Linked DNA regions of Homo sapiens. The protein of the gene in region 6 purifies or fractionates together with the protein of the main gene of each other region. This does not show direct contact. Each region holds a gene or a part of one and is shown on either strand. Other genes may lie near its edges. The genes, in order: LIMD1, RIPK1, PSMD14, CCT6B, USP9X and EGLN3.

Evidence for each region.
Region 1: the proteins of EGLN3 (region 6) and LIMD1 purify together in Homo sapiens (affinity purification with western blotting; 2 studies listed by BioGRID and IntAct, with this or other methods). This does not show direct contact.
Region 2: the proteins of EGLN3 (region 6) and RIPK1 purify together in Homo sapiens (affinity purification with western blotting; 2 studies listed by BioGRID, with this or other methods). This does not show direct contact.
Region 3: the proteins of EGLN3 (region 6) and PSMD14 purify together in Homo sapiens (affinity purification with mass spectrometry; 2 studies listed by BioGRID). This does not show direct contact.
Region 4: the proteins of EGLN3 (region 6) and CCT6B purify together in Homo sapiens (affinity purification with mass spectrometry; 2 studies listed by BioGRID and IntAct, with this or other methods). This does not show direct contact.
Region 5: the proteins of EGLN3 (region 6) and USP9X purify together in Homo sapiens (affinity purification with western blotting; 2 studies listed by BioGRID, with this or other methods). This does not show direct contact.

The regions. Positions count from the first base shown.
Region 1 is NC_000003.12:45,600,609-45,605,731, reverse strand, and holds part of LIMD1 (LIM domain-containing protein 1), read right to left. Parts: intron 1-5,123. UniProt on the Homo sapiens protein: Adapter or scaffold protein which participates in the assembly of numerous protein complexes and is involved in several cellular processes such as cell fate determination, cytoskeletal organization, repression of gene transcription, cell-cell adhesion, cell differentiation, proliferation and migration.
Region 2 is NC_000006.12:3,105,377-3,110,499, reverse strand, and holds part of RIPK1 (receptor-interacting serine/threonine-protein kinase 1), read right to left. Parts: intron 5,079-5,123; exon of another isoform or gene 5,019-5,078; coding exon 4,449-5,018; exon of another isoform or gene 3,709-4,448; intron 2,699-3,708; exon of another isoform or gene 2,603-2,698; intron 1,199-2,602; exon of another isoform or gene 1,104-1,198; intron 1-1,103. UniProt on the Homo sapiens protein: Serine-threonine kinase which is a key regulator of TNF-mediated apoptosis, necroptosis and inflammatory pathways.
Region 3 is NC_000002.12:161,366,808-161,371,930, forward strand, and holds part of PSMD14 (26S proteasome non-ATPase regulatory subunit 14), read left to right. Parts: intron 1-670; coding exon 671-742; intron 743-976; coding exon 977-1,096; intron 1,097-3,299; coding exon 3,300-3,370; intron 3,371-4,364; coding exon 4,365-4,515; intron 4,516-5,123. UniProt on the Homo sapiens protein: Component of the 26S proteasome, a multiprotein complex involved in the ATP-dependent degradation of ubiquitinated proteins.
Region 4 is NC_000017.11:34,950,321-34,955,443, forward strand, and holds part of CCT6B (T-complex protein 1 subunit zeta-2), read right to left. Parts: intron 4,280-5,123; coding exon 4,106-4,279; intron 1,734-4,105; coding exon 1,630-1,733; intron 1-1,629. UniProt on the Homo sapiens protein: Component of the chaperonin-containing T-complex (TRiC), a molecular chaperone complex that assists the folding of proteins upon ATP hydrolysis.
Region 5 is NC_000023.11:41,227,069-41,232,191, reverse strand, and holds part of USP9X (ubiquitin carboxyl-terminal hydrolase 9X), read right to left. Parts: intron 2,940-5,123; coding exon 2,783-2,939; intron 2,626-2,782; coding exon 2,413-2,625; coding exon of another isoform or gene 2,365-2,412; intron 1,692-2,364; coding exon 1,596-1,691; intron 1-1,595.
Region 6 is NC_000014.9:33,922,751-33,927,721, forward strand, and holds the end of EGLN3 (prolyl hydroxylase EGLN3), read right to left. Parts: intron 4,284-4,971; coding exon 4,210-4,283; intron 3,173-4,209; coding exon 3,141-3,172; 3' UTR 1,477-3,140; downstream 1-1,476. UniProt on the Homo sapiens protein: Prolyl hydroxylase that mediates hydroxylation of proline residues in target proteins, such as PKM, TELO2, ATF4 and HIF1A. Target proteins are preferentially recognized via a LXXLAP motif.

The DNA.
Region 1 (5,123 bases), on a different chromosome or scaffold from region 6:
GCCTCAAAAGGCCTGCAGGGTTGGTGATCATCATCATACCAGTGGCTTGCCATGTGTGGTTATTTCCTAAAGGACACCTTTCGTCCTTTCTAATCTCACTTTAATTAGATGCACTCTTCCAAGCAAATTGGCCTTTAGCTCAGTAAATGATTCTACATTTGGCCAGAGATCCAAGAATCACAGTGCCTGATACATTCTGTATCACCAGTGGGCTCAGCCACTACTTTGTACTGGATACTTTCTGCAGACAGTCTTAACACTGATTATTCTAAGAATGGAAGGTACATGAGTGATTCATGTTTCTTCTTTAATTGTATGTATTTTCCAGAATATCTAAAGTAAAAATGATTACCACTTACAATTGCAAATGTAACCATAACTAAAAATAAAAATTGTTTTTTAATTCCGTAAAGGTCTGGAAAGGGGCTGGGATGCCAGGCCGCTTGGCCTCTGCCTTTCCAGGCTCTCTGCCACTGCCAACAATAATGCTGCCCAGTCCCTGTTACATGGTTAGCTGAAACCCAGGCATCTAGTTATACCTAATGCCACTGTCACAGGACTTTGGGCCGGGAAGGACCCTGAGAGGTCATCTTGGCTCAATAGAGCTAGAGGGACTTGCCCAACATCACACCCTGAGCTGCTGGTGGTATCAGGCCCAGAAGACCTGGTTTCCTGACTCCCAAATATGTGTCTTTCTTGCACAGTTCTGTCTCCTATGTGACAGTCACAAATCAACAGATGTAAAGAAACATAACTTTTTAAGACCCCTGGCAAGAATGATCATGTCAAAATAACCGTTTCATGTTCTGGACTGTTAATGGAAAGAGCAGGAGGGCTGGATGGAAGAAACAAGACATTCTTTCCTGGTCACAAAAGAACAGAGCAGAAACATACCATACCAAGGAGGGAGGACTCCAGAGAGAAAGCATGACGGGACAGGCAGACGCTGTGGGAATCCATGTCGGGACGCGCCAGGGCTACAGCTCCCAGCAGATCAGCCTGCTTGGAAGGGATTGGTGGCATTGGCAGCACAGCACTGGCCAGAAGAACATCCGTTGGGAGCCACCAAGGCAAGGACCTCAACAGGCTCAGAGAAAACAAGGCTGGGATGACGGGGAAGAAGGAGCAAGGTGAGGCACAGGAGGGGTGGGCCAGAGCGAGGGTCTCCAAGGTCACAGTGAGAGGAGTGTGAATCCATCGCACTGGCTGTCCTTCCCCACAGCACTCAACCCAGTGCTGAGAACACAGTGTGACCTGACACGTATGCATCATTGACCTGCTGATTGAGCAAAAAGATGAACCTATCTAAATGAAGTTTGAGAGCTTCCTCACCTCTGCCCCTGGAAAACTCTGAAGAGAAGTGCTGTGGAGAGAGATGGCATGCAGGGACGGGGCTGAGGCACATGATGTAGTCACATCCCTTCAGAGAACACAGAGGACCGAGACGGTATCCAGTCCTTGACCACTGACCACACAGGAGTCACCGCTGTTACAGGGCGAGCTTCCAGCCCAGGAGGACATACAGTGGAGGTGGCCCTGGGCAGACGGCACCAACTCCTTGCTGTCTCCAGCCCAAGCTTCACCCAGGTCAGCCACACGATCTCCATTCATCCATCCCCAAACATGCCATAATGTGTTTTTACATTTTCCAAGTTTTTAAAAGTTACATCAAATCCCATGTTTGTTTAAAAGCCCATTTTTGCTATCAGAAATCAGACAGCTGATCCTTGGACACTTGGTGGTGACTGTACAGGGGCACAAGGAGCGTCCTGGGTGATGGTCATGTTCTGCCTTGATCTGGGTGTTGGCTACACAGATGGGTTCACTTTGTGAACATCTATGATATGTGTACATCGTACATCAATAAAAGGTTAAGAATACATGTCTTCCTGACTTAGGAAGATTGCCTGGTCCATTAAAAAAATGCATGGGCTGGGCACAGTGGCTCACGACTGTAATCCCAGCACTTTGGGAGGCTGAGGTGGGAGATCACTTGAAGCTGGGAGTTCAAAACCAGCCTAAGCAATATGGTGAGACTCTGCCTCAATTTTTTAAAAGAATGCACAGAGACTGCCCGATGTCTAAAGGATTGGGCATCCCCATATCCCTGGGTGTGCATCTGCAGGGCCAGAGAGATTGGAGTCTTGAATGTCACTGACAAATGTTACCAGCAGAGTCAGAAATTTACTTCCATGTCAATGGAAACCTGGATTCGGCTGGTTCAAATTATGGCACATCTCCAAAAGGCATTCTGGTGGCAGTCCCCACGTCATCATATCTAGTCATGCCAGTCACTCAGACAGAGGCACACAGCTGTTGAGCTTCTGTCACTTTCTTCCACTTCAGCAGTTGGTTTGGGTTTAATGAAATGCCTGATATGGGAGGAGGCTGGTTAGCCAGTGCCTCTGGGGAACACAGACAGACCTCTGTTCTGGAATTCTGGAGGGGCTGCTTTATTACAAGACTAGCCCATGTTGTTTCCTTTTATGTGAAAAATGCTCGATTTTTTAATCTAGGCTGGAATTAAGCACCATATTTCAAGCATCTATTGCTAATAAAGTCTGATAAACAGTAATTAAAAAGTCATGAAGGGCCAGGTGCAGTGGCTCACGCCTGTAATCCCAGCACTTTGGGAGGCCAAGGCGGGCAGATCACCTGAGGTCAGGAGCTCAAGACCAGCCTGGCCAACATGGCGAAACCCTGTCTCTACTGAAAATACAAAAATTAGCCGGGCATGGTGGTGCGCGCCTGTAATCCCAGCTATCCAGGAGGCTGAGGCAGGAGAATCGCTTGAACCCGGGGAGGCGGTGGCCGCAGTGAGCCAAGATCGCACCACTGCACTCCAGCCTGGGTGACGGAGTGAGCCTCCGTCTCAATTTAAAAAAAAAAAAAAAAAGTCATGAAAACGAGGAGCAGCTCAGTGTGCAACAGACTGTCAGATGGAAGGGCATCTGTAGTCATGTAGACATGCAGATAGGGCATCTGTAGTCATGCAAATAGGACATGTAGGTACATAGATAGGACATCCACATGTTCCTTGCTTGGACTGCTCGTTTAACCCTGTGCATTGCCAGGAAAGTAAAATCAAGTAAGACAGGCTCCCTGGCCCCGGTCAGGGCAGGGCCATTCTCAGGAGGAGTCACACCTGCTTTCAGGATCCCAGGCTAAGGGGGGTCTGTCACTGCAGTTTTCTGGGTTAGGATACTGCTGAAAGGACATCCACCAAAGACAGAAAAACCAAACACAATGCCAACCCTTCCTTTCTCCATGCTGGTGAGGAGCAGGCCTGTCCATCCACTTCCTGGGTACAGGAGACCCTGGAACCTGCTTATTCTTGCCTTTCCCACCCCTCTGGTCCTAACAGCGAGCAGAATGTGGCTCTCTCCTGGTTAGCTTTAGCCGTGACAGATCCCCAGGCCCACCCACAGCAGGGAGGGTGAGCACAGGGGCTTCAGGTCCAGGGGACACAAAAGTCCACAGCCCAGGCCGGGCGCAGTGGCTCACGCCTATAATCCCAGCACTTTGGGAGGCCAAGGAGGGTGGATCACAAGGTCAGGAGATCGAGACCATCCTGGCTAACACAGTGAAACCCCATCTCTACTAAAAACATATATATAAAAAATTAGCTGGGCGTGGTGGCGGGCGCCTGCAGTCCCAGCTACCCGGGAGGCTGAGGCAGGAGAATGGCTTGAACCTGGGAGGCGGAGCTTGCAGTGAGCCAAGATCGCGCCACTGCACTCCATCCTGGGCGACAGAGCGAGACTCTGTCTCAAAAAAAAAAAAAAAAAGTCCACAGCCTGAAATATGGGGGAAGAAGGCATGGAAAACGCAAGGAGCCCACAAAAGCTCCCTACAGTACGTGGGTGGAGAATGAATCTGGAGGGGCAATAGAAGGCATCCACTCAGACGTGAGAGACCACCTAGTCCCACCATGCAAGTGGTCAGAGCAGAAGCAAAATCCCGACTGGTATGGGAGCACCACTACTTGTACCCATATGGTCTTGAGCAAGTCACTTAACCTCTCTGGCCTCGGTTTCTCAACTGTAAACAGAGAATGGTGCCTACATCAAAACTAAGTGTGCAGGTTAAATGCCAACAAGGCCCACAAAGCACTGAACTCCAGTGCCCGGCACACCACTGGCACTTGACACACGGTAGCTACTACTAGAACCATAATGCCCAAGTCACCCGCTCCTACCTGCCCCCAGGAAGGGGGCACTGTGGGGATGCTGCAAAGGCCCTTCGATGAAGGCGAGGACAGGGGAGGGCACAGCTGCTGGGGTGCGGCAGGCAGGTTGCCCTCCTGTCAGCCCCTGAAGAGACTATCCCAGCTGCACAGAGCTGCCTCGCCCAAAGTCACCATCTTCCTGGGCAGCCCACAGCCAACAGCTGATCCATGAGGGAGTGTGAAGGCCAGGCCATGTCAGGCCAACTAGGATGACCCTAAAGGACTTTTCCAGCTCCCAGGCTCCCTGCGGGGTCAGGTCCCAGCAGCTCAGCTCTCCTCTACCCACTCCTGATTCCTTCTCCATCTTCCACAGGTGGGGACCCCAAAAGCACCTTTTAATAAGCCCTTGTATGGTCAACTCTGTCTCAGTCAGCTTCCCAGGAAACCCAGCCTATGACAAGTGGTTTATTTGTGGGGTTTTTTGTTTTTGTTTTTGTTTTGAGACAGGGTCTCCCTCTGTCACCCAGGCTGGAGTGCAGTGGCATGATCATATCTCACTGCAGCCTCAGCCTCCTGGGCTCAAGCAATCTTCCCACCTCAGCCTCCCAAGTAGCTGGGACTACAGGTGTGCACCACCATGCCTGGCTAATTTTTGTGTTTTTTGTAGAGATGGGGTCTCACTATGTTGCCCAGGCTGGTCTTAAACTCCTGGGCTCAAGCAATTCTCCTGCCTCAGTCTCTTGAGTCGCTGGGATCACAGGTGTGAGCCACCACACCCGGCTTGTGTCCTTTTTCCTTAGAAAGGGAGAAGAGGACCAGTGTGAGGAAGATAGGTGGATCACATGGAGGAGACGGTGGGGCACAACTAACAAAGGCACGGTGCCCTCTGCACCCCACCTCTGCAGTGTCAGCAGTGGTGCTAAAACAGAAGCCACACTGCACTAGGTGGTGTAGG
Region 2 (5,123 bases), on a different chromosome or scaffold from region 6:
GCGGTGGCTCACACCTGTAATCCCAGCACTTTGGGAGGCTGATGCAGGTGATCACCTGAGGTCAGGAGTTCAAGACCAGCCTGGCCAACATGGTGAAACCCCTTCTCTACTAAAAATACAAAAATTAGCCAGGCGTGGTGGTGGGTGCCTGTAATCCCAGCTACTCAGGAGGCTGAGGCAGGAGAATCACTTGAACCCAGGAGGCGGAGCTTGCAGAGTGAGCCAAGATCGTGCCACTGCACTCCAGCCTGGTGATAGAGTGAGAGTCTGTCTCAAAAAAAAAAAAAAAAAAAAATCGTGATTCTTCAAAAAAATTAAAGATAGAATTACCATATGATCCAGCAATTCCGTTTCTGAGTATATACCCAAAAGAACTAAAACAGGGTGTTGAAGAAATATTTCTACCCACGTGTTCACTGCAGCATTATTCACAATAGCTAAAAGGTGGAAGTAAGCCAGGCACCCATGAGCAGATGAGTGGATAACCCAACTGTGGTCTAGCTACACAATGGAATAGTCAGCCTTGAAAAGGAAGGGAATCACATCACATGCTACAACATGCATGAAGCTTGAGGACATTTCCTAAGTGAATGAAGCCAGCCACAAAGAAAAATGCTGCATGGTTCCACTCACATGAGGTACCTAGACTGGTCAGAGTCACAGAAACAGAGAGTAGAATGGTGGTTGTCCGGGGCTGGGAGGGGAGCTGGGGAGTTGGTGTTTAATGGATACAGAGTTTTAGTTTTGCAAGATTAAAACAGTTATATAGATAGATGGTGGTGATGGTTGCATAACACTGTGAATGTTAGATAATGCCACTGTAAAAATGGTTGAAATGGTAAATTTTATGTTTTTGAATTTTACCATAAAAAAATGTGGCTAACACCAAGTCAGAAAACAGAAGTGGATGAACAACACAGCAAAGCTCAGCCACACTTCCCAGCGGGATCCCACGACTCTGAACAGCATCTGTGAAGGGTCCTCCTCCTTTACCTGATAAACTCAAACCTCTCAGGTTCAGTATTCAGAAGCTAGCCACAGCTCTGCCCTACCCTCTTGTCTCTGATCTTCCTTTCACTGTTTCCTCCCTGTCTCCACTCCAGAGACTCCAGTCCCACCAGATTTCCCACCGATCTGCTGACATGATGCTCCTGCCTCTGCCTGGACTGCTGACCTCCCCACGTGCTTCTCCCTGCTTGTGAGTTTCTGACATAGGCCCAGCACAAATTCCACCTCCTTCCATGAGCCTGCACTGTAATCCTAGACTCAGCACTCTGCCCTGCGCCGCTCTGTATCTGAGCTGGGTCTGTTTGACTTCTCCACTAGAATGTGAGTCCCAAGGGCAGCGACCACACCCACTTGTTTTTGTACTCCTTACACTCGCTAGCCTGGGCCTTGGTACGGGGCATGGGCTCAATGACATTCATGCTGAGCTGAATTTGTCAAGTGTTGGTACTGTCCCTAAAGAGCACTTGGCATATCTTTGTAGGAGAGAGAAGGTGGTTGAGAAGACAGTTCTGAGGAGGGAGGGAAATGAGTATCAGCTCAAGGTACCTCCGTCAGCACACCTGGCCCTAAGGTAGGCCACCCTCTGGACCAGGCACTGTGCTCATTTGTTACATTTTCTCTGAGGAAGCCAAGGAAACTAGGGACCCTCTCTACTGAAAGGTGTAAGAAATATAGGATGTGCACACACACGCCATCTGTGTGCAATTCAGGGTGTTCGTGAAGCTGCTGAAACTGGGGTCCTTGGAATCCTAGCAAGGAACCCCTGTGACAGTCTCTGAGGTGCCTTCCAGTGCTCAAGGCTGTCTAGGTGTTCTTTGCTGACAATGATAATAACAGTGCTAATAACAGCAGCTACCGTTTACTGAGCACTTACTCTGCGCATCGCCAGGCACAGTGGTAAGCTGCCTTACCCTGTTTAATCCTCCTGGCCCACCACCTCCAGCTTACACTGACACCGTGTTCGTCACTCACAGTCTGCGCTCACCGCGGGCTTACATGGAGGTTTATTTACCCTGCACCTCTCTACTTGGAAATCTGTGTTCTTGAATCAGTGCTTTCTGCCCAAATCTGACCACTGGAAAAACCATGAAAGTTACGAAGTGGAGAAACGAATGCAATACTAGAAACATACTAGAGCTGATAATATATAAATTTTCAGTTGTAACATTTTCATTTATAATTGAGGAGAATGAACTCTGGAGAGGCAAATGACTTTCCCAAAGTCACCCATATAGTGACCGGCACAAGCAGGACTAGACCTGGGTCTCCTGACTCTTAGCCCAGTGAGCTTTCCTTTTCTAACCTCACTTCAAGCAGCACAGTGAATAAAAAGCAGTGGGTCTAAGAGCTCTTTCACTGAAAGGAAGACATTTATTTTCCTTTTGTACTTACTGCATACACACCCTTCTTCTATGGTATGGCAAATTAGAAAACTCATATTTTGGTATAGAGTTAGGACTTTTTGATGATAAAAGCAAGCAGAAGACTTATTTAAATTTGCAAGGAGAAACTCAGCGTGTTCATTTACTAGCTTAGTACCTGGCAGGATCATCTTTGGGAGCAGAAACACAGAAAATTCTATTATCTATTGTAGATCCAAGCGCCCCTTTCCCACTGAAAGCATCTCAGAACCCTGAAGAAGCTGCATCCCTGTACATCTGTCACTGGCAGAACCAGGAACCAGAACGAGGTGAAAACACAAAGAGATTTCTGGCACTAAACGGGTGTATTTGGGTTGCTCATGTAGAAAAAAGATAAAAAATGACACATTAAATATTGGTTTAGGGTCTGCCTTCTGTCCACTAGGATTTAAACTGTGTGAGGGAAGGGACTCAGGCTGTTTGTTCAGTTATAGCTCCAGTGCCTGGAGAACTGCACGTCACAAAGTGGGAAGAGTTTTGGAATTTTTTTTTTTTTTTTTTTTTTTTTGCGACAGTCTCGCTCTGTCACCCAGGCTGGAGTGCAGTGGTGCAATCTCGGCTTACTGCAACCTCTGCCTCCCGGGTTCAAGTGATTCTCCTGCCTCACCCTCCCAAGTAGCTGGGATTACAGGCGCACGCCACTATGCCCAGCTTTTTTTTTTTTTTTTTTGTATTTTTAGTAGAGACGGGGTTTCACCGTGTTAGCCAGGATGGTCTCAATCTCCTGACCTCGTGATCTTCCCACCTCGGCCTCCCAAAGTGCTGGAATTACAGGCGTGAGCCACTGTGCCCAGCCAGTGGAATTTTTTTTTTTTTTTCGAGACACAATCTCACTCTGTTGCCCAGGCTGGAGTGCAGTGGCATGATCTCAGCTCACTGCAACGTCTGTCTCCAGGGTTCAAGTGATTCTCCTGCCTCAGCCTCCCTAGTAGCTGGGGCTAAAGGCATGCGCCACCACGCCTGGCTAATTTTTGTATTATTTAGTAGAGACAGGGTTTTACCATGTTAGCCAGGCTGGTCTCGAACTCCTGGCCTCAAGTGATCCACTCACCTCAGCCTCCCAAAGTGCTGAGATTACAGGCATAAGCCACCACACCTGGCCAACCATGGCCCCAGCTGAAATTTTTATTGACTTAATCATGAATGAATAAAATGATATGGCAATACTAATAAAAAATTTTATCCCCAACATGAAGGAAACAAAAGGACATTCTGCTCATAGGATTATACATGACTTGGATACTGCTTAATGTCTAATCCAATATTTTGCATTCTACAGATCTTATCATAAAACCTATGGAAGAAATCGAGGATGTTTGCATAGGACGTTTTTGGAGAATTTGGCCTTTTGAAAGAAAATGTAACTAAGCTCTGTGGTTCTGAAAGCTTCCTCTACCTGAGATGATTTCAAGATCTCCAGGACACCTGTGGGTATCATTGGTAGATGCTGTTCAGGTAGTTAAGGTGATGTTGGTGAGTATTATTTGATAAAAATGCTGGATATTACATTAACTCACTTCCATTCTAGACTGCCAGTAACTACTATCACCTACCTTTTACTTCACCTGATAGAGATATGGGAGTTAAAAGAAAATTTTTCATCACTAATGGTAGTCTTTGAGCTATATAAGGTCAGAAACAAAAATATCCAAGACTGATTTCTTACCTTCAAAAAGTAGCAAGCAAGGTAAAAGCAAATAAGCAGATAACTTCCCATTTATCAGAGATTGGGTGAAATAGGACTACTATGCACTCCAGGTTAGAGTCAAAGATGCCTGCCAGTCACAAGGACCTGTAACCCGATGCTTGCGGGCATCTGTGATGAATCCTAGCCCCAGATGAAATACTCCCAGACCAAGTGGTTTGGCAGGGTCCATTCCACAGGGGCAATTTGCATCTGGCAGCTGATGATGCCCTCTGTCCCCATTATAACCCACAATCTATAATAGAGCTGCTTGGTTGCTGTATTTTCTGAAAAATAAAAAAAGACAAGCTTGTGACTATCGAAGACCCATTTACCTGTTGGTGGCAAGGAGCTGAATGGCATGGTGGGTGTATTTCCTAGATAGTTGGTCTCAGGCACTGGGATATTATGCAGACTAGGCATATGACTTGGAATTGGCCTGTACCAAACTCTGGGACCTGCTGTTCCTGGATCCAGTGGTCTTGTTCCAAAGCCATGTGAGCTATATAATCCATTGTTCTGATACAGTACTTGAGGTTGGCTGGTGAGCCCTGAGGGCTGGTGCACTGCATTACCATGACTGGCTGCACTGGAATAAGCAGTGCCTTTTCCCTCTGTATTCTGAAAATTCTCGTAAGGTCTTTGCTGTGCAAAAGGGTCATGGGAGACCCTGCGTCTCCTTTCCTCCTCTCTGTTGTAAGCCACATTCTGTCTGGGCTGCTGTTTCGTCTGCCTGTCCATGCGGCTGCCATAAAGATGGTAGTTGGCTTCGTCTTGGAGTTTACTCTGCAGGCTGGGCTCATTCTCTTCTTGTGGGTGCTCCAGGGAAGGAGCAAACCAGGACTCCTCCACAGGACCCATCCCAAGTCCCTGGGAACTGTGCAGTGAACCAGGCTGTTCTGTGGCTGAGAAGAAATGATCAACATTAGAATGGGTGTCATGAAACATTAAAAAGTAAAATAAAATCTGAGCGCCGTCATGAATCTGTATCTCAAAGTAACACACAGAAA
Region 3 (5,123 bases), on a different chromosome or scaffold from region 6:
AATCCTTAAAGGAGAAACATAGTGTCTTCCTTAGTAATACTTGTTTTAAAGGTAGTGGTTAGGATTTTGGAAGTATTTTCACGTCAGCTATACCTGTCTCAACTGGTTTGTTCACACCTGGGGCAATTGTGTTAAATTTGTTGTTGTATAGGGGGAGGGGAACAGCTTCATTAGGTGACATGCAGAGGATGTTGTTCACAGCTCTTTCACCCAGGGATTAGAAGTCTTCTTTCCCCTTCTCCTCCACTGTTGTGATGAATTTGCAGAGGAATCCCATAGCCTTAATCTATTAATACTCAAAGAATTTGCTGTTTGTGTTGATGCTTTAGTTAATTGTGCTAGTCCAACAGCATTTCACATATACACACTGTGGTAACAAATGTGGCTAATTGGTACATTATAGCCATGTTGTAGCCAAGGTAGATTGGCATTGCCGAAAGACTTAAACTTTATGTCCATTAGACCCTTGGCTTAGTATTAAGTTTTACCTGTTTTCTACAGGTTTGATATTTGCAAATGTGTTTTGATTATGTCATAGCCAAATAAAAGGATACTTGACATGTTTTGCAAAACTATTTTAAAAATATCAAGTTTATACCACATGTAACTTGAATTTTAAACTCATAAACTCTGTGTTTGTTTTAATAATAATTGATGTATTTGTTTCTAGGGGCCACCTACAGATGCTCCTGCAGTGGACACAGCAGAACAAGTCTATATCTCTTCCCTGGCACTGTTAAAAGTAGGTAATGAATGTAGTTACTTGCTTTAGAGAACTCTGTTGCTTTCACTGTATCTTTTACTTTGGAATATTTGTCACCTTAATCCTCTCAGACATAAATAAGCTATTGTTTTAGGTACATTTATAAAAGGAGTTTTTATTTTCACTGGAACAAAATTTGGTTTTTGTTTTATAAAGAAGAACCAGAGACCTCAACGAAATTTGCTTTGTGTCCACATCTCTTCCTTTCTACAGATGTTAAAACATGGCCGTGCTGGAGTTCCAATGGAAGTTATGGGTTTGATGCTTGGAGAATTTGTTGATGATTATACCGTCAGAGTGATTGATGTGTTTGCTATGCCACAGTCAGGAACAGTGAGTACTTTTATGGTTGCCTGCTGCAAGTAAATGTGTTTCTTTTCATTTTTCTTTTCCTATGCAAACTAACTCTCATCATATTACATTTTCTCTTTCCAGTAGGAAAAATTAATCATAAGTTTGATAGAAATTTTTAGATTGTATTGAATTAAATCATTAATCTTTAAAACGCAGCATAACTTCTTATAGGTCTACAAACTGAATGATGCTAATGCTAAATTTCTTTTCTCAGTCCTTCGGCTTAAACTGGTGTAAAATACTGGATTTAAAAGTTACTTACCCTATAATAGCAGAGTGTTAGTTTGATTTTGAACCAAGTGTTCAAAAGATTTGAGATTCTCTTAATTTAGATTTTCAACTCACATATACTGGTTCTTATGTCTTGTTCCCATTGTTTTGAAATATGTCATTTAAAAAATGTTCTATATATGGTGATGAATGACTTTTTAAGCTTTTCTTATTTAAAATGTTAAGTTAAAGCAAAACAAAACAATAGCAAACCTGAATATTTTTTTCCCAGGCATGGTATTTTGTTTATATGCACCGTACTCCATACAAATTACCTGTATAGAATACATTATTCTTTCTAGAGATGTTTGTTTTGTTTTGCCTTTTTGTTTGATGCATTAGACTTGTGTTGATAGATGTGCATTTTGACTGAAAGAAAATAGCCAAAAAACAATAACCATTCCATCTACCTTCCAAAAAAAGCACATATATCCTTCTCACCTGTTTGCTTAGAAAAATATGCATGTATTTTTCCAAGCGATATTTCTTCTTTGCTAGGCAATATTTCTCTTACTGAGCCTTGTAAAAGAAGGATTAAAGAAATTGTTGTTATAAAGCTGTTAGTTCTATTCGAAGTTCTGTAAGTTTACTTTGATAAGGTAGATGCTGGAGAACAAATTACAATTTTAAGTACTGTAATATATATAGTATGTATATTAAAAATAAGCATTTAAAATAGAATATTTGCTACAGAATGCAATATATTTAAAATAATGTAAAGTTTTCTCTAAATAGATGAATTTGTTGAGGTAAACTAATTTGGATCTACTGATTTTATCCATCTTGATATCCATTATATTTATTTTATACATTTGGAAATAGAGAAACACTCTACATGTTAACCAAAGGTTTAGATTTAAATCTTAGACTATTTATTACTTGTATCTGTCTTTTTATATTAGGCTACATGAAACACATAAAACTAACTTATATATGTTATGGGTACTTATGTAGATACCCATTATAATACATTGTTCTTAGGCTTTAATATCATTACTTCCATGTAAATGCTTGTTTGACAATATAAAATAAAAGATTTTGATCCCTATATTCACTCTAATTCTATTTTCTAGTGTCATAGAATTAGAAAGTTTTTCTTCTGACCCCAGAGTCAGTAAACTTTTTCTATAAAGACATATGTCTCTGTTGCATATTCTTCTTCTTTTTTAAGACAGTCCTTTTAAAGTATATATATGAAAAGAAAGAAAAAAACCGAAAACATTCTTAGCCTATAAGCAGCAGATTGCATACCCCTGTTCTTGAGGATGTACTCTCTGTTGGAATTCAATATGCATACTGTTTGTTTTGGTGGGAAGGAAGTGCTTATGTTAACTAGTTTCTTTAAGTACATTAGATTTAGATTCCTGAGGTTAGAAGAAAGCCTTGGGAGCTATAAAGACAGTACTCTATCGCCAGAGAGATGATCTGAACCTTTTAATTCTTCCTGTTCAAATATCTTATTTTGGTTGAACTAGCAAAATAATGCTGTATGTAAGAGACTTGAGGCTGTTTCATTATGATAGCTGAATATTTGTAGAACTTTGGATGAGGCTCATTTTAGTCATCAGTTATGATAGGATGGCATTAGGAAGTATGCTTGCCTAAATAGGTCTAACCAATAGTTATGGTTGGTTCAATTATTTCGTATTTCTGGTAAACATATACACAGCAATGGCCATATACTCTTAAAGAATCCTGAAAGTGGGCTTAACTCGATCGCCAACAGCAGTTTGGTAGTTGGCAATTTTAGAAGCTTGATTGGTATGAGGTTTATAATTGAATGACTTGAGTAGGTATCAAATGTAGGTATCAAAACCTATAAAATGATTTTGGCAACCCCAAATAATATACATAGGGAAGCTTTTTTTCCAAATTTACAAAAATTAATAATTTTTCTTTCTTTCTAAATCAGGGTGTCAGTGTGGAGGCAGTTGATCCAGTGTTCCAAGCTAAAATGTTGGATATGTTGAAGCAGACAGGAAGGTAAGCATTTTAAATGATCAGTTAAAGAAATAATGGGAAATATTTATAGAAACATACCTCAAAGTTATAGATGTTTATCAATGTCATTTCTAGAAAAAGTGGTTATGTAATTGACATAAAAGTATCTGTAAATATCAGTGCCATGCACCACCTGTCTAGTATATCTTCCCTTTAGAACCAGAGAAATTTGCCCATCAGAGAACTGCCTCATGTTAAAATTCTTGACTGTCACATAGTAAGCTTGGGCTGTAGCTTCCCTCTGTTTAGCATATGGAGTTACTGTCTAGTCACTTATAATTGAAAGAGCTTGTATGTTCCATGTATTTGAGAGTTGCAACTGAATGAGATTATGAATATTTAATTATGTTTGTAGGCATAGTTTTAAAGACAGAGAAAGTATAATCCAAATATTCTAAAGTTTTTTCCTCAGACCAAATCTCTCAATAGTTGTCATTCTCTTGCTCAAATTCTTCTGCTGTGGAAACAACTTCAAAATTAATGTTAGCAAAAGGCTCAGCAGCTGAGCAGAACAGTGCAAATTGGTTTTTGACTGAGTTCCTAGTTCTACTGCTGGTTTAATTGATATTTAATCCTTTCACAACAGTGGATCCTGGTGTCCATTGTTAAAAATGTACTCTGTGCCTGGAAAATCCAACTCCCAGAGCTAAGGAGTTAAAGAGTAGATATTTACTTGAATGCTGAAAGGGTAAAAACTGGCTCTGAGAAACTGTGGTAACAAGGTGAAAAACTGAAAGCCTTATCTACCACTGCTAATGTGCATCTCTTAATGATAGCACTCCTTTGTCACACATATTCATTTCCATGTTTTCTGGATAATATGGTGTACAATTTCAGGGTTTCTAATGGTGCTTTTTCACACCTGTGTGTTTTTCATCTCTTCTTAATTTATACCCCGTTAGTGTGTTGTTTCTTTTCATATCATAAATGTATTACTTGTTCTGTTCTGAGCATCTGAATGCCCTCTTTGTTTCAGGCCGGAGATGGTTGTTGGTTGGTATCACAGTCACCCTGGCTTTGGTTGTTGGCTTTCTGGTGTGGATATCAACACTCAGCAGAGCTTTGAAGCCTTGTCGGAGAGAGCTGTGGCAGTGGTTGTGGATCCCATTCAGAGTGTAAAAGGAAAGGTAGAGTAGATTCTATCTTTATTGCCATCTACTGCCACATTCTGTTTACAGATACATTAAATAAAAATCAATTTTGTTCAAAGCAGGATTCTTAATTACACAGAAAGCTGCTGTCTGTTTACTTAAAAAACAAAAAAACTGTACAAGTTGATAACTGTGTCTTGGTATTATTAGCAATTTATTTAGAGATTTCTTCTTTAATCACTTATTGTGTAATTTTCCTGAATATTTATCTTTAAATTTTTTGAATTTCATAAAATTAGGAAAGTTAAACCATACTCAAAGCCTGCTATAAACATTTTATTAATATTTAAATAAACATTGCTTTACCTTTATTTTCAAATGATGAATTTGGAATTGGCACAACATTTTAAAAATCTATTTAAAGGGCATTGTTTTGCAGACATTATGCAGGACATATTCTGGAGGTGTGTTTTCCAAATATTTTAGACAATGAAAACTTGCCCAAAGACTTGGTATCAACCATTCACGTTTTTGGAGTGAGGACGCAAATGAATGATTAAATATGCTAAATAATTCTGAAAACAGATTAACTTGCAAAGCATATTGGGTTATAGTTCTTTGTTGAAACCCCTTTTGTTCTTGTT
Region 4 (5,123 bases), on a different chromosome or scaffold from region 6:
CCCCACAAAATTCCAAAAAAGTAAATTAAATAATAAAGAGAAAGACACTGTGAAATGAAAACAAACCTCTGGGAAAAAATTATCACAACAAGGAAAGAAAGGCATAAATAACACCAGAAATAAATGGTGATACCACTACAGATCCTGCAAACAGGATCCTTATAAAAATTTTATGCCAGTAAGGATATTTATGAACACTTTATACCAAAAATTTCAGAGTTAAACAAAATGGACAAATTTCTAAGAAAACATTACTTACCAAAATGATTCAAAAAATAAGTAGAAAACCTAATTAGTCCTATAGCCATTAAGAAAATTGCATGAGTGGGGCCGGGCGTGGTGGCTCACGCCTTTAATCCCAGCACTTTGGAAGGCCGAGGCGGGTGGATCACAAGGTGAGGAGTTCGAGACCAGCCTGGCCAACATGGTGAAACCCCGTCTCTACTAAAATACAAAAAATTAGGCAGGCGTGGTGCCACACACCTGTAGTCCCAGCTACTCAGAAGGCTGAGGCAGGGGAATCACTTGAACCCAGTAGGCGGAGGTTGCAGTGAGCCAAGATCACGCCATTGCACTCCAGCCTGGGGGACAGAGTGAGACTCCATCTCAAAAAAAAAAAAAAGAAGAAGAAGAAGAAGAAAATTGCATGAGTAATCAAAAATCTTCCCACAAAAACTCTTCAAGACAAATAATCAGACTTTTCCAAAATAATTATCAAGGTGAAAAACAATGAGAGGAAGAAAGAACCTACAAATTAACAAATTAACAGAGACTAAAAGAGATATCACCTAAGTGCACTATACAGACTGTGCGTAGATCTTAATCCAAACAAAACTGAAAAAAATCTGAGACAACTGTTAGACAAATTAGACTATAAACTGGAAATGTGATAGTATTAATGAGTTATTCATTTTTAAGGTGTTATAATGTTTTGTGGATATATTAGGTAAAAGCAGGGGGTTTATGTTTTATGGATTATATGATATTTACAGGTGGTATATGATGTCTGGATTTGCTTCAAAATAATCCTAGGTGGGAGGGGGAAAGAGGGAAGGGTATGCTTCATATGTTAGAAATTGATAAAGATAGCTAACAGTTATGTGGAAATTCCCTATTCTGTTCTCTCTATATATGTTCACAGTTTTCTATAATACAAAGTTTTAAAAGAGTAAATCCAAAATCAACATGGTACTCCATAATCTGGTCCCTTTTGCCTCACCTCCTCTCCCTGTGCTCCAGGCACACTGTAACAACCTAGTCACACTTCTGCCTCAGGACCCTTTCAGAGGTCATTCCTTCTGCTTAGAACCCTCTTATTCCAGATGTGCACATGGCTAGCTCCCTTGTTTCTTCAGAGACCTCTTAGCTCTCCAGGTTCTTATCAGAGTAGTCTTCCCTGTCCACTATAAAATCACACACATGATTTTTTTTCTATTTCAATTAGAAACATAAACTTCTTGGGGAAAGAAATTCTGTTCTGTTTACTCTCATTCCCATTACCTAGAGCAGTGACTTAATATATGGTGAATGAATATATTTATGTTGAATAAAAGTAAGTAATGAATTTAATAAAAGAATATCTTTAAAAAATTCTAGAACCCATATGTTGTCAAAGCTTATGTAATTTACTTTGTATCTGTTCCTAATTTATGCTTCATCTCCATTATTTCTACCATGAAGAGATCAATAGGGTAACCTGGTCTTCTAACAGCCAAAACAGAATCCACCACAACCTGAAAGAGAAATGAATGAGAACAGTTAAGTTATTTGGACTACTAAAATAAACCAAGGGCCCAAACAATCTATCACCAGACTAAGGAGATAAAAGCCTTCAGGATTCAAAACCTAGGGCAAGACCAATATGTGCCACTTTACTATGGATGCTAACAATAGCCAATGCCAACAGACACTTTAGAGTCTAAAGAAACTTCAGAGATCATTAGGTCCAAACCTTTTATTTTACAGATAAGGCAACTGAGATAAGACCTTAAGAAGTCACAGTTTTTAAATAAGATCTAACAGCTAGTAACAGGGCCGGGACTAGAATTCAGGGCTCCCTAACTGCCCAGCGACTACTCTTTCTATCATACCAAGACTATCCAAACTTTTCCACCAAAGGACACCTTAATGGAAAAGAAGGAAAGGTAATCTAAGGTAATAGCTCCAATTTGCTGGCTGTAATAACAGGAAACGTTAAAGTCTCATGTTTTATCGTGAAAAGTTTCCATGTCATCCCATAATATGTTTATCTCAATGTAAAAATAATGTTTTCCCCCAAAATTGTAAAGTAAAATTGACACTCCAGAAAGCTACGTCTCATTTATTCTGTCACATATGACCAGGGATATACAATTTAAGAAGCATAGCACAACACGTCTTATTGCTTAGCTCAGAAAATGATATAAAAATAATAAATAACTGCAGAAATTAAGGGCTAAGTTATAACTACCCTAAAATATACATAAAGCAGAAAAAACTGTATCTTAGAAAACTTTGCCTGAGGTGACATAATATTTTATTTTAGAGGCAAATAAGAAATAGGACAAAGGCCATTGGATAGTGAGAATATCACTGTTTCTGTAACTCTAAAACAGAATGGGTGCCCTAGCAGCATGAAGATTTGGGGCCATTCAAGTACTCTAACAGCAGAAAACACAGCAGAGCCTTTCTTCTGACTCTGCTCATCAAGAAATTGTCTGATCTTAATCTGATTTCCCAAGTTGTTTTTTTTTAACGGTAAGGAGAATCGATCAGAAACAACTCAAGTATTCCAGTACATTTGGCATTTGTAGTTCTCAAAGTAAATTATTAAGGTAGTATTCTGCTTTGTATGTCAATGTCTTGTGAATTTGTTTCCTAAGAATTTATCATTCTTCCTGGTAAACAAATATATTCAAGTTTCAGAAATTACAAAGCTGAAAAACAATAATGATATCAAATCATTGCCACCTGATAAAAGCCTTCCCAAAATATCCAGCCAATCTTGTCTTTATATAAAATATATATATATATATATATATATTTTTTTGAGACAAAGTTTCACTCTGTCACCCAGGCTAGAGTGCAATGGCATGATGTCAGCTCACTGCAACCTCCCCCTCCCTCCCAGAGTGATTCTCCTGCCTTAGCCTCCCAAGTAGCTGGGATTACAGGTGCCTGCTAACATGCCCAGCTAATTTTTGTATTTTGAGTACAGACAGGATTTCACCATGTTGGCCAGGCTGGTCTCAAACTCCTGACCTCAGGTCGTCTCCCCACCTCGGCCTCCTAAAGTGCTGGGATTACAAGCATGAGCCACCATGCCCAGCCTATATAACATATATTCTACCTTTAGAAATAAACAAAACACTGGCCAGATGTGGTGACTTCATGCCTGTAATCCCAGCACTTTGGAAGCCCGAGGTGGGTGTATCATTTGAGGTCAGGAGTTCAAGACAAGCTTTGGTAACATAGTGAGACCCCATCTCTACTAAAAATACAGAAATTAGCCAGGCGTGGTGGCACGCGCCTGTAATCCCAGCTACTCGGGAGGCTGATGTAGGAGAATCGTTTGAACCTGGGAGACGGGGGTTGCAGTGAGCTGAGATCATGACACTGCACTCCAGCCTGAGTGACAGAGTAAGACTCTGTCTCAAATAAATTAATAAAAGAAATAAACTAAACAAACATACATTTCCAATATGTGAATATTAATATATTAATATATCATATCACATTTCATTATATTGGTAACCTTATCTACAAGGTACACTGCTAAAACAACTATCTTGTGTGTCACCTCACATAATAAAATATGGACTGCTAGATTTAAAAAGACCAGTATACTATTCAAGAGCTTCCACAGGAGATGATCTGCAGGCAGCCAAACCTCTCCCACCTTTCAAGTCACGTTTAAAAAAAGGCCTAGTATGATACTTCTGAAAATTACAAATACTGTTCTGACCAGTCAAATCTAATCTACAGTTAGGCCTATACAATAATTGTCTGTCTTCCATATTTTATGCCCAAAAAACCACATGAAATACTTGATTATCTTACAGAAAAAGAAAAATATCACCATGCATTAGGCTATATTTGTTCTGAATGCAAAAGTTTAATAACATACCTCTGTTAAGACATCAGCCAGTTCAGCATGAACTTTAGTTTGTAATGATGTTCTAGCTACATCTAAGAGGATTTTTCTTTTCATCTCCTTTGTCACTTTAACTTCCTCCAAAACTTCAAGTGCTTTTATCTTTGCAGCTTCAAATCCTTCAGCTATTATTCTAGGGTGCAGGCCCTGTTACATCAACATAAAATTATAAATTATAAAATAAGTCACCCAATGTAAAAGTAACCAACCTGTCTGATTATTATGTTCAAAAAAAGTTACTCACATTAATGCCATGAAATATAAGTGTACATAATTTATAAAAGTCATTTTAGTGCTTCATACTTGAAATAATCTCAACCTTAACAGTAAGGCTTCAAGTCTAGTATTAAAAATTACAGAAGTCCTTTTTATTTCCAAAAATTATGACTACATTGTTGTTATGTGGTGCCCTTCTGAATGGGCACACATAAAAAGATTCCTTTCAATGCAGAGGAAAAGAACCACCACTGAATTGGGGAAAAGTGGCAGATAGAACACTGTGGTGTCTACCACTTCACCAAGTGATCAAAGTTAACATCACAATAATGAGACAGACAGGCATCACATGCCTGCTGACATGATGCATTCAGTAGAACACAACAGTTCTATGGTATTTTGGCCAACAATCTGTAACCTAAGTTTAATTGAGGAAATAGGCAAATCCACACTGAGGGACTTTCTACAAAATAAATGGCTTAAAAGTAGCAATATCATGAAGCATAAAAGGCAGCTCAGGAACTAGTCTAGCTTAAAGGATACTAAAGGAACACGACAACTGAGTGCAATGCATGAACTTAGATCTTTTTTTTCTATAAAGAGCACTATTAATATAAGTGGTGAAGTTTGAATAGAATGCAGATTAGATAACAGTAATGTATCAATGTGTTAATGTTATTATTAATTTCCTGGTTTTTATAACTATACTGCAATTATATAATTCCCTGGTTTTAAGAAATATACACTGAAATATTTAGATCATGTCTGCAACATA
Region 5 (5,123 bases), on a different chromosome or scaffold from region 6:
AACCCCAAAACCCTGAATAAGAGCAGTGATTGTGTAGGTCCACATAAATCTTTGGCCAAAGTGATTTTTAGTGCCAAAAATTATTTAGACTCAAGTCTGGCAAATAAAGGATTAACCCACTGTTGCTCTTGGTAAAAAATTTTCAGAGAATGATCTATGAGCATCTATTGACTCTTCCACATGCTAAATCCGATTGACTAACCATGATGTAAGATATATAGGAGCAGTAACCCTGAACTCACAATAATGCTGATTAAAAACAGAACAATGTTCAAGATGATAAAGTAACCAGGCATGATTAACATAAGAGCTTTCTCAGGGTCAAAGGAAGTTAACCTTCCTTGTGGATTTGGTTCCTTAACCTTTTAAAATGTCTGAACCCTACAGTGCTCTCATTTTTCTGTACATGCTCCATCAGCCAAGCCAAGATTTTAGGCTTAACTTTTTTTTTTTTTTTTTTGAGATGGGAGTTTCGCTCTTGTTGCCCAGGCTGGAGTGCAATGGTGCTATCTCGACTCACCACCACCTCTGCCTCCTGGGTTCAAGAGATTCTCTTGCCTCAGCCTCCTGAGTAGCTGGGATTACAGGCATGCGCCACCACCATACCCGGCTAATTTTGTATTTTTAGTAGAGACAGGGCTTCTCCATGTTGGTCAGGCTGGTCTCAAACTCCTGACCTCAGGTGATCCACCTGCCTCAGCCTTCCAAAGTGTTGGGATTACAGGCATGAGCTACCGCGCCTGGCCAGGCTTTACTTTCTATAGATGAAAATAAGTACGCTGAATGTGTACTTCCTAACTATTCAGTTTGCTTCTATGTACACAGTGAAATGTAAGAAAGAATGCCTGAAATGTTTCTCCAAGTATGGTTCCTGGACCACCAGCAGCATCACTTGGGAACTTGCTAGAAATGTACATTTTCCAGCCCCTTGAAGACCTATGAAATAAGACACTTTAGGGTAGCATCTAGCTCTCTGCTGGAGCAACCCTTCCAGGGAGACTCACGCCTGTGCAAGTTTGAGTACCACTGCCTCACAAGAGCTGATTTAGTCACATTTTGGTTTCAGAAAGAAAAAGTTATCATTTAGAATGTTTCTTCATCTCATTTCTTTTGCTATTTACTAGTTTATTTACTTTAATCACCTATGGAAATCTACCCAAATCCTTTTTTTTCCAGTGATTTTTACCATCACTGAAACCTGTGGCTAAGTAACCAAGGACTTCTTACTTCATTGCCATATCTTAATAATGTTTTTGGAATCCAGGTGAAGATTTTACCTCACCGGAAATGTCACCACAATCCTTTGCACTAAACAATGATCATTTTATGTTGATATAAATTCTCATACAGTTTTATTAACTACTAGCACAAGAAGGACACCTTCTTGACAAGGAAAACCCTACAGTGGTTAAGTTCAAACATGTTACACCATGACCCCCACTCCAAACCATCCCTCTTCTGGATCATGCTCCCAAAGCTAGTCTAGATAATCCTACTTCTTACTTTGTAGTCACAACAAACAATTGAGCCATCCTCTAAAATTAAGCATAAAACCCAGTTCTAGGGGATAAAAGCATAAACTGACTCCTGTTTACCTGTTGATACTGAGATCCAGGTGAATGGGGGTACAATGGGGCATCTTCAGGTGGAGGCGACTCATGTTCATCTGGAGCATCTTGGTCATCTGGCTCCTAATTTTGAATATTTCAAGATAAAAAATTACGTAGGCAAACTCAAGTTTACTTTTAACTTTTTCTATTTGAAATAAATTTTAAAAATCTACAAAACTGACCCATTAGCAACTTTTCTTTTACTGCAGATAAAGAACTTGGGGAAAAAACAAAAAAAAAAAAAACAAAACAAAAAACCTGATTTGCATTCTCTCAGAACTACTACATTTCAGGCAATTTCACAGAAATTTCTCCAAAAGAAAGCTCCCTTCATTAGCTTAAAATGACATAGAATAAACATTCTTTTCTTTTCTTTTTTTGAGATGGAGTTTCACTCTTGTCACCCAAGCTGGAGCCCACTGGCACGATCTCCGCTCACTGCAATCTGTGCCTCCTGGGTTCAAGTCATTCTCCAGCCTCAGCCTCCCAAGTAGCTGAGATTACAGGCGCCTGCCACCACGCCCGACTAATTTTTCTATTTTTAGTGGAGATGGGATTTCACCTTGTTGGCCAGGCTGGTCTTGAACTCCTGACCTCAGGTGATCCGCCTGCCTCGGCCTCCCAAAGTGTTGGGATTACAGGCGTGAGCCACCATGCCCAGCCGAATAAACATTTTTCAAAACCCAAAACTTCAACATAATCTTTTAATAATATCATTAATACATAAACACTGGCCTATAAAATAAAGAATTACTTTGCTCTCTTCCATTTCTATCTGCTGCACACTGGTGGCTTTTTTTACCTCCTCTGGACAGAGTTCACAAGCTTTTGCAAGTGTCATCCTAGCACTATGTGATCTCTCCAAGAAATAACCATTGGACGTTTCATTGCTTTGCACTGGGGGAGACCAATTGTTGTAAGTGTACTGAGGATTGCCAGTATATGGTCTTCTTTCAAGTTCATCTCCAAGCCATTCCACTGCCCAGGTCCACTTTCTTTTAAGATCTCCATTGCCCTGCAAAAGAAAATAAAACCATATAGATAAGAGGATTTGGAATACTTCAAAGTTAACTTAAAATGACAACCCCAAGTTCTCATGATTCTCTTCTTTTAAAACAGAATCCTTAATTCTGATTAAGATTTCTACAAAATTATAAGAAAAAAATCCTCACCTGCAGGATTTGGTAAGCAACAGGACAGTTACTAAATAGAGCTACCATACATTTTATACACTGGTATGCTCTTTTTTGATAGTGATTCTTAGAGCGCTGGATTGTGTCAAACAGCCCATCTCGGTCATCTGGAATTCCTTTCAGTGCATTATGAATTCTGAAAGAGAACCAGATATAAAATAAAAACATCTAAAATCTAATAGCTAATATATACTGAGTGCCTACTATGTGCCACTCAATAATGTCTTTTAGTCATTTAATCTAACATTAGACAATAGGTACTATTATTAAACCTTTATTTTTTATTTATTTATTTTTTTTGAGACGGCCTGGGCTGGAGTGCAGTGGCGCCATCTCGGCTTACTTCAAGTCCTGCCTCCCAGGTTCACGCCTCTCTCCTGCCTCAGCCCAACTACAGGCACGTGCCACCACGCCCAGCTAATTTTTTGTATTTTTAGTAGAGACGGGGTTTCACCGTGTTAGCCAGGATGGTCTCAATCTCCTGACCTCGTGATCCGCCTGCCTCGGCCTCCCAAAGTGCTGGGATTACAGGCATGAGCCACTGCGCCTGGCCTTATTATTAAAACTTTTAACAGGTGAGAAAATTGGCACAGAGTTACACAGCTTGCCGAGGTCATATAGCTGCGGAGCAGTGTGACTCCAGAGTCTGTGCTCTTACTAACTTATTACCAGTCCAAAATAATTCTGCCATATATGTAATTTAAACACATTACCTGAAGTGAATTCAGGACACTCGAGAGTAATGCAAACTTTAAAAAAGTTATAACTAAGTTTATGACTGCTGTAGTTGAGGGTAATTTGCTACACATCAATACCTTTTATAAAACTGCATCTCTGAAGGCAAGTTAGGATTCAGTGACATAATTTGGAGGTACAGTATTTGAATTCTAATAATGAGAATACATGGCAGGCAAAGCATTTTGACAGGCAATAGTACAATTTGGCTGATTTGCCAATAACACAGGATTTCATTTCAGTTTCTCCCAAACTACAACAGAGTAATAATACAAAGCCAACTAGTCCTGTCTTTCCCTGAACTAACTAACTTAAAACATGATTGTAGGGGCACAAACATGCCTTGTTTCTTTTGTGTTAAAAAGATTATGTGCCAGTAAATAAAATGTGGTGTATATATATCCATAAAACAAAATATTATTCAGCTATAAAGTAATGATACATGCTATAACATGGATGGACTCTGAAAACATTAAGCTAAGTGAAAGAAGTCAGACACACAAATTGCATGATTTCGTTTTTACCAAATGTCTGGAAGAGGCAAATCCACAGAGACAGAGAACAGATTAGTGGTTGCCAGGGTTAGAAGGAATGGTGAGTGACTGCTTAATTGGGTAGGGGTTTCCTTTTGGGGTAATAAAAAAAAATGTTCTGGGATGGGCACGGTGGCTCACATCTGTAATCCCAGCACTTCGGGAGGCCGAGGTGGGCGGATCACGAGGTCAGGAGATCGAGACCATCCTGACTAACACGGTGAAACCCCGTCTCTACTAAAAATACAAATAATTAGCCAGGCATGGTGGCGGGCACCTGTAGTCCCAGCTACTCGGGAGGCTGAGACAGGAGAATGGCGTAAACCCGGGAGGCGGAGCTTGCAGTGAGCCGAGATCGCGCCACTGCACTCCAGCCTGGGTGACAGAGTGAGACTCCCTCTCAAAAAAAAAAAAGTTCTGGAATCAGATAGTGGTAATGGCTATACAACATTGTGAATGTACTAAAAGTCACTGAATTGTATACTTTGAAATGGTGAGTTTTGTTATGTAAATTTTACCTCAATTAGAAAACATAACCTGGACACTGAGAATTTAAAGATTCTAATATACACTATGTATTTTACTTAACAGTATGTTTAAAGTCAAAGTAAGATTTTTTTCCTCCATCAAATGCATTCATGATTTCCAAACAAAACAGATTACTTCAACAATTTTGCAAAGCTTAATCATTTCAGACAAATCAACCATGTTCAGGCCCTCTTGCTGTTTCATCTGAAACACTACATATAAATTGCTTTTACCTTCAGTTTTTTCAAGTAACAATGAAGTGCTAAATCATTATTTCTGCCATATCATATTTTCTCCCCATTAGCATCAACTGCTCTCAAATGCCATTTTTATTAATACTATCTTCACTTGCCTTATTACCTGATGCCAAGCAGTGCTGGGCACATGGTAGACACTCTATAAATATTTGAACATTGTTTACTGAATGAACTAAAAGCTCATTATGAGAAAATTATTTTCACGTTTGGGCCAGTGATTCATTTAACAGTATCTTACTAATCTCATTACACAAAAGTGTAATTCCC
Region 6 (4,971 bases):
GGCCAAGATAGCGAAACCCCGTCTCTACTAAAAATACAAAAATTAGCCGGGTGTGGTGGCGGGCATCTGTAATCCCAGCTACTCGGTAGGACGAGGCAAAGAACTGCTTGAACTCGGGAATCAGAGGTTACAGTCAGCAAAGACGGCGCCACTGCACTCCAGCCTGCGTGACAGAGCAAGACTCTGTGTCAAAAAAGAAAAGTTTATTTCTATTCTGTTCTAACAATACTTTCTAACCACCTTACTAACCAACTCTTCATGCCATTCAAAAGATTCAAGACTGTAGCTAAGTCAATGTTGTATCGTTTTAAAAAATAACTTTACTAAGAATATCCCTTCTGCTTGTCCTCGTAGTCGATCAAATATATAAGTACCTGACATATCCAAACTCCTATCTTATATAAACTGCTGGCCCAGCATGGCATTTCCCATCATTGCTTTCTAAAACACAGGAAATTTCAGTACTGAATGGCCAAAAGAAATTAGGACGACCCAGCCTCTAAAAAACCTGAGTTAAAGAAAAACAAAATCATGTCTGAATGGATAATTCATGATTCTGACAGTCCAGCATTTAATGGTATTAACTACTCTACTAAGGATCTATCTAATGCACTTAGGTAAGACTTTTTATTTCCATGAAATTGGATCTTTGGTTCAAAATTTAATCTCCTACCAAGAACTCTGGACTATATAAGTGACATAATGGTGAGGTAGGCTCTTAATATTTCATTGCCGGGAATATAAATGAAATTGATCAGATTATTTGCCAAATAATGTTTCTTTAGCAGGGCTAACTCCTCCCCTAAATGGGCTGTCAAAGAGAGGAGCAAAAAACAGACTCCTAGCATTAAAGTTGTATTTTCCAGCTTAATTTTCCAGGACTCAAATTGAGTCATTAAAAAAAAAAAAAAAAAAAAATCAGTGCACATAAAAAAAGTGGTTTGTTAGCTTATAGGACCTTTGTCTGGAAGGAATAAACAAAGCCTTGGAGGTCAGATCTTTTGGCATATTGACTAAAATGAAAAATACAAGACATGCTTTTGGAACTATATGATCCTCCTTCAGAATATTGTCACTATCATTCTTATGACATTAGAAATCATGAAAAATATATAACTACAATTTTACAGAATACAAAATTCCTAATAAACTTCGTCCTTTCTTTCCTATTGAAATTTTTCAAGATTGTTCGAAAGGGGAATTCACTCTGTCCTATCTGAGACTAATGTTATTTTACTAATGTTGTTTCTAGGATATGGAAGGGCAAAATATAATTTGTTCAATTTTCAGATTCATAGTGGTCAGTGAATGACCTATTCATGGGTATACAAATACGAAGCAACACTATGACCAAAGCGTTCTAAAACTCTTAGCGTAAATGTGTAAGTCAACAATGTTAAAAAGATGTGTGTAAAAATTCTAGCAAGCCCTTCCTGCCAAAGATGGAATATATTAATCAAACCATTAGAATGCTAATGTAGGAGACTGAGTTTATTCAACAAGTATTTACTGAGCCCTTACTATGTTCCCGGCACTATTTTAGGTGCTGAGAGTATGTTGCATTGGTTAAAAATATACAAAATTCCTGTCTTCATTGTGCTTACACTCCAGAGAAAGGATACAAGACAATAAACATAATAAGTGAATAAATTACATAGTAATTTAGAAGGTGATAACTATTACCGTACAACAAAATAGAGCAGTCGTTGAGAATTAATGGTGACATGTCTTATCTGGAAATTTTCCAAAACCAGAAGAGGAAAAAGTAAACTTCTATCTTGGAAGACTATATATATATATATCCGTACATAACAAAGGAAAATATTTCTGGCTCTTTAATGTTCATGGGATTTTCAAGCAAGAAATTAAAGGGATTTTTAAAACATGAAAGTAATACTGAAAACTAGGAAAAGTAGCTTTTGCAAAATACGTGCTCAATACCAAGTTATTGAGGCAGTGCGATCTGTGCTTACTGCAGGAGTAGAAGCTTCCACAGTTCTAGCAAATTCCATGATTCTGGTCATACTGCCAACCACAGTGGATCTAGAGAGCCAAGTGAGCTGAAGAAAGACTGCTAGGGACAGACGAGAACTCAAATAGCTTTGAGATTTTTTTATTTCCACTTCCTTTTTTAAAATACATCACCTTGCTTTTTTTGTGTTAAAGGGTGAGCTCATTAAAAAGGAAAACTAAAAAAAAAAAAAAAAAAAAAACAGGAACACCCACATTTCCAACTCCACCTCCCCTCTCAAATTGTTCAAGATGCACACATGTTTATTGTATATCAGTAGACCTAGCTCTTTCCACAGTTATCAGTGGTTAACACAAAACTACCAGGGATATATTTTTCCTTTCATTTAAATTTAAATTCCATTCCAACAAAGCAACCAAAACAACTAATGTCTAGTTTTTTAGCTTCTGGGGAATTAGGTTCCCAGGTAAGAACTGAAAATGGAGAAAAAATTGTGTTGCCATCTTTATTCAGAAAGTCATTATTTTCAGCAAAATGGGGCTGAGGCAGAAAATCCAGGTTGCAGGACTGGGAAAAAAGGAGTGTCTGCCCCATGGGACACTTATAAATTGTTCACTATGACAGCAGCCCTTTCTAGAGGTATTAATGTCATTAGGTTGTGATAATTCTCCAGAAACCCCAACAGCCCTGGATTAAGAACATCTGGAAATTGTTCAGATGACACAAATTTCTCTGTTTCCTGCTGTTAAGGCTTCCGTGATGCCTCTCTGTGGCATCTACCACCTCCATTTTTTTCTTTTCAAACCTCCTCCTTTCAAATCAGGAAGTATACATAAAGTGCAAGTAAGGTTCATTCCCTCGCTGTGCTCCTAGGCTCTTCTCTTGATAGTATTACCGAATCTATCAGGTAAACCGCTGGCCGAGTAGGATGTCTGCAGGAATTTCTGGAGTTAGCAAGTAACTTCATCTGGCAAAGAGAGTATCTGAAGATCAACACAGTCTTGGCAAGAAAACATGAAGTACCACACACAAGACAGGGATGTGAAGGATGCAAGAAGTAGCAGGGAGATTGTTGTCACTGAAGAGGCCATCTTTGGATCTCAAAGAATTTAAGAGAATTCAGGAACCGTTACTAAAATGAACAAGGCCAGCAGATTTCAGAGCACGGTCAGTCTTCAGTGAGGGCAGATTCAGTTTTCCCTGGGTTGGGGACAGAAAGGAGAATAAAGAGGGTATGGAGTCAGCTCTGATGAGTTTTATGTCACAAATGTCACCAAAAAGCCTCCAGTAAACACTTCCCATCTTATATAAGCCTCCTAATAGAGCTCTGCCAAAGGATTCTCTCTTGACTTTGCAATGGGATCTTTCCCATATGCCTCACAGACTGTGGAGGAACTTTGGGTTTACATCCAGCATTGGCACCTCTTGGGCTAATGCTGAGCATAAGTTGTATGAAGTGTAGCCTCACTCACATATCAGAGTTAAGCAGTGTAGGCCATCTGGAAGAGAAAACAAACTGAGATTTCCTGGGTGCAATTTGGAGACCACTTTGGTATTTGAGAGGTATACAGTCCAAATGGGTTATGGGCTAGGCAATATTATATATGTTTCCTTACTGCAGGATCTCTTAGCGCCTTAATTTAATATGCTAGTGAGCAATGTGACTCTTTTTAAGACAGGCATACAGCATGCAACATTTCCCACATTTTTGGGACCAGGAATTTACCAAATTGGCAGGATTTGTGTTTTAATGCAACGTATTTTGGGAAATGCTGCCTTCTAATACTGGTTGGAAGGGATAGGAGTAGTGCTGTTATATTCAGTTTATATTACATGAGCCCTGCTGTTATACTGAGAGTCACAGTCTCACCCAATATAATAAATTTTGCCATCATAACTGGGTTCCATTATATTTCCTTTGCAATATGCCAAAAATCATGGGCAAAATTTAATGTTACATTTGACTGGTTAACATTAATAGGAAAAAGTTAACTATTTCCCATCTATCATAAACCATCATACATTCAGTGGGCATTCTCAGGGGAAGCCCCTTGCATTGTTTCTGATTTTTCTAAGAGCCCTAAGGCCAAGGTTTCAGGATAAAACCCATCAAGATGTCATTATATATAAAGCTAAGCCGTAACAGATTGAACAGAACATGTTTAAAACTACATAAAATTGAATAAAAGTCAAGGATTAACTTGATCAAAAGTCACAGAAAATTATCAAACACATACTAGTTAAATTCCTGAATTTCTTTTTGGCTTCTGCCCTTTCTTCAGCATCAAAGTACCAGACAGTCATAGCATATCTGTGAAAGATAAGCAGATATAAGGAAAGAGATTTAATGGTACTACTAGAAACACAAATGTCCTATAAATCTCACATTAAAAGTTTTAAAGTTTTCTCTATTATTAGAAGTCTACCCTGATTTATTTATTTATTTATTTATTTATTTATTTATTTATTTTTTGAGATGGAGTCTTGCTCTGTTGCCAGGCAGAGGCGTGATCTCGGCTCACTGCAACCTCCACTTCCCAGGTTCAAGCGATTCTCCTGCCTCAGCTTCCCAAGTAGCTGGGACTACAGGTGCACGCTACCACACCCAGCTAATTTTTAAATTTTTAGTAGAGATGGGGTTTCACCATGTTGGCCAGGATGGTCTCGATCTCTTGACCTGCCCACCTCGGCCTCCCAAAGTGCTGGGATTGCAGGTGTGAGCCACCATGCCCGGCCTGTCTACGCTGATTTTAATTTAAAATTAACTTCTCTGGTTTTAATTCTATTTCAATGTAATAAAATGCATAAGGAATTCCAGGTATGTGCCAGAAATTATCTTGGGCATTAGGAATTCAAATGACCCTGTGATCAGATCTTCCTCTGCGATCTCAGGCTCCAAGTAGGGGAGACAGGTGATTTTGCAATAATGCAACAGGTAAACATAGCCTCTACAGAAAGGACTAGAAGGGAGTCATTCTGCTAAAGACTGGGAGACCCAA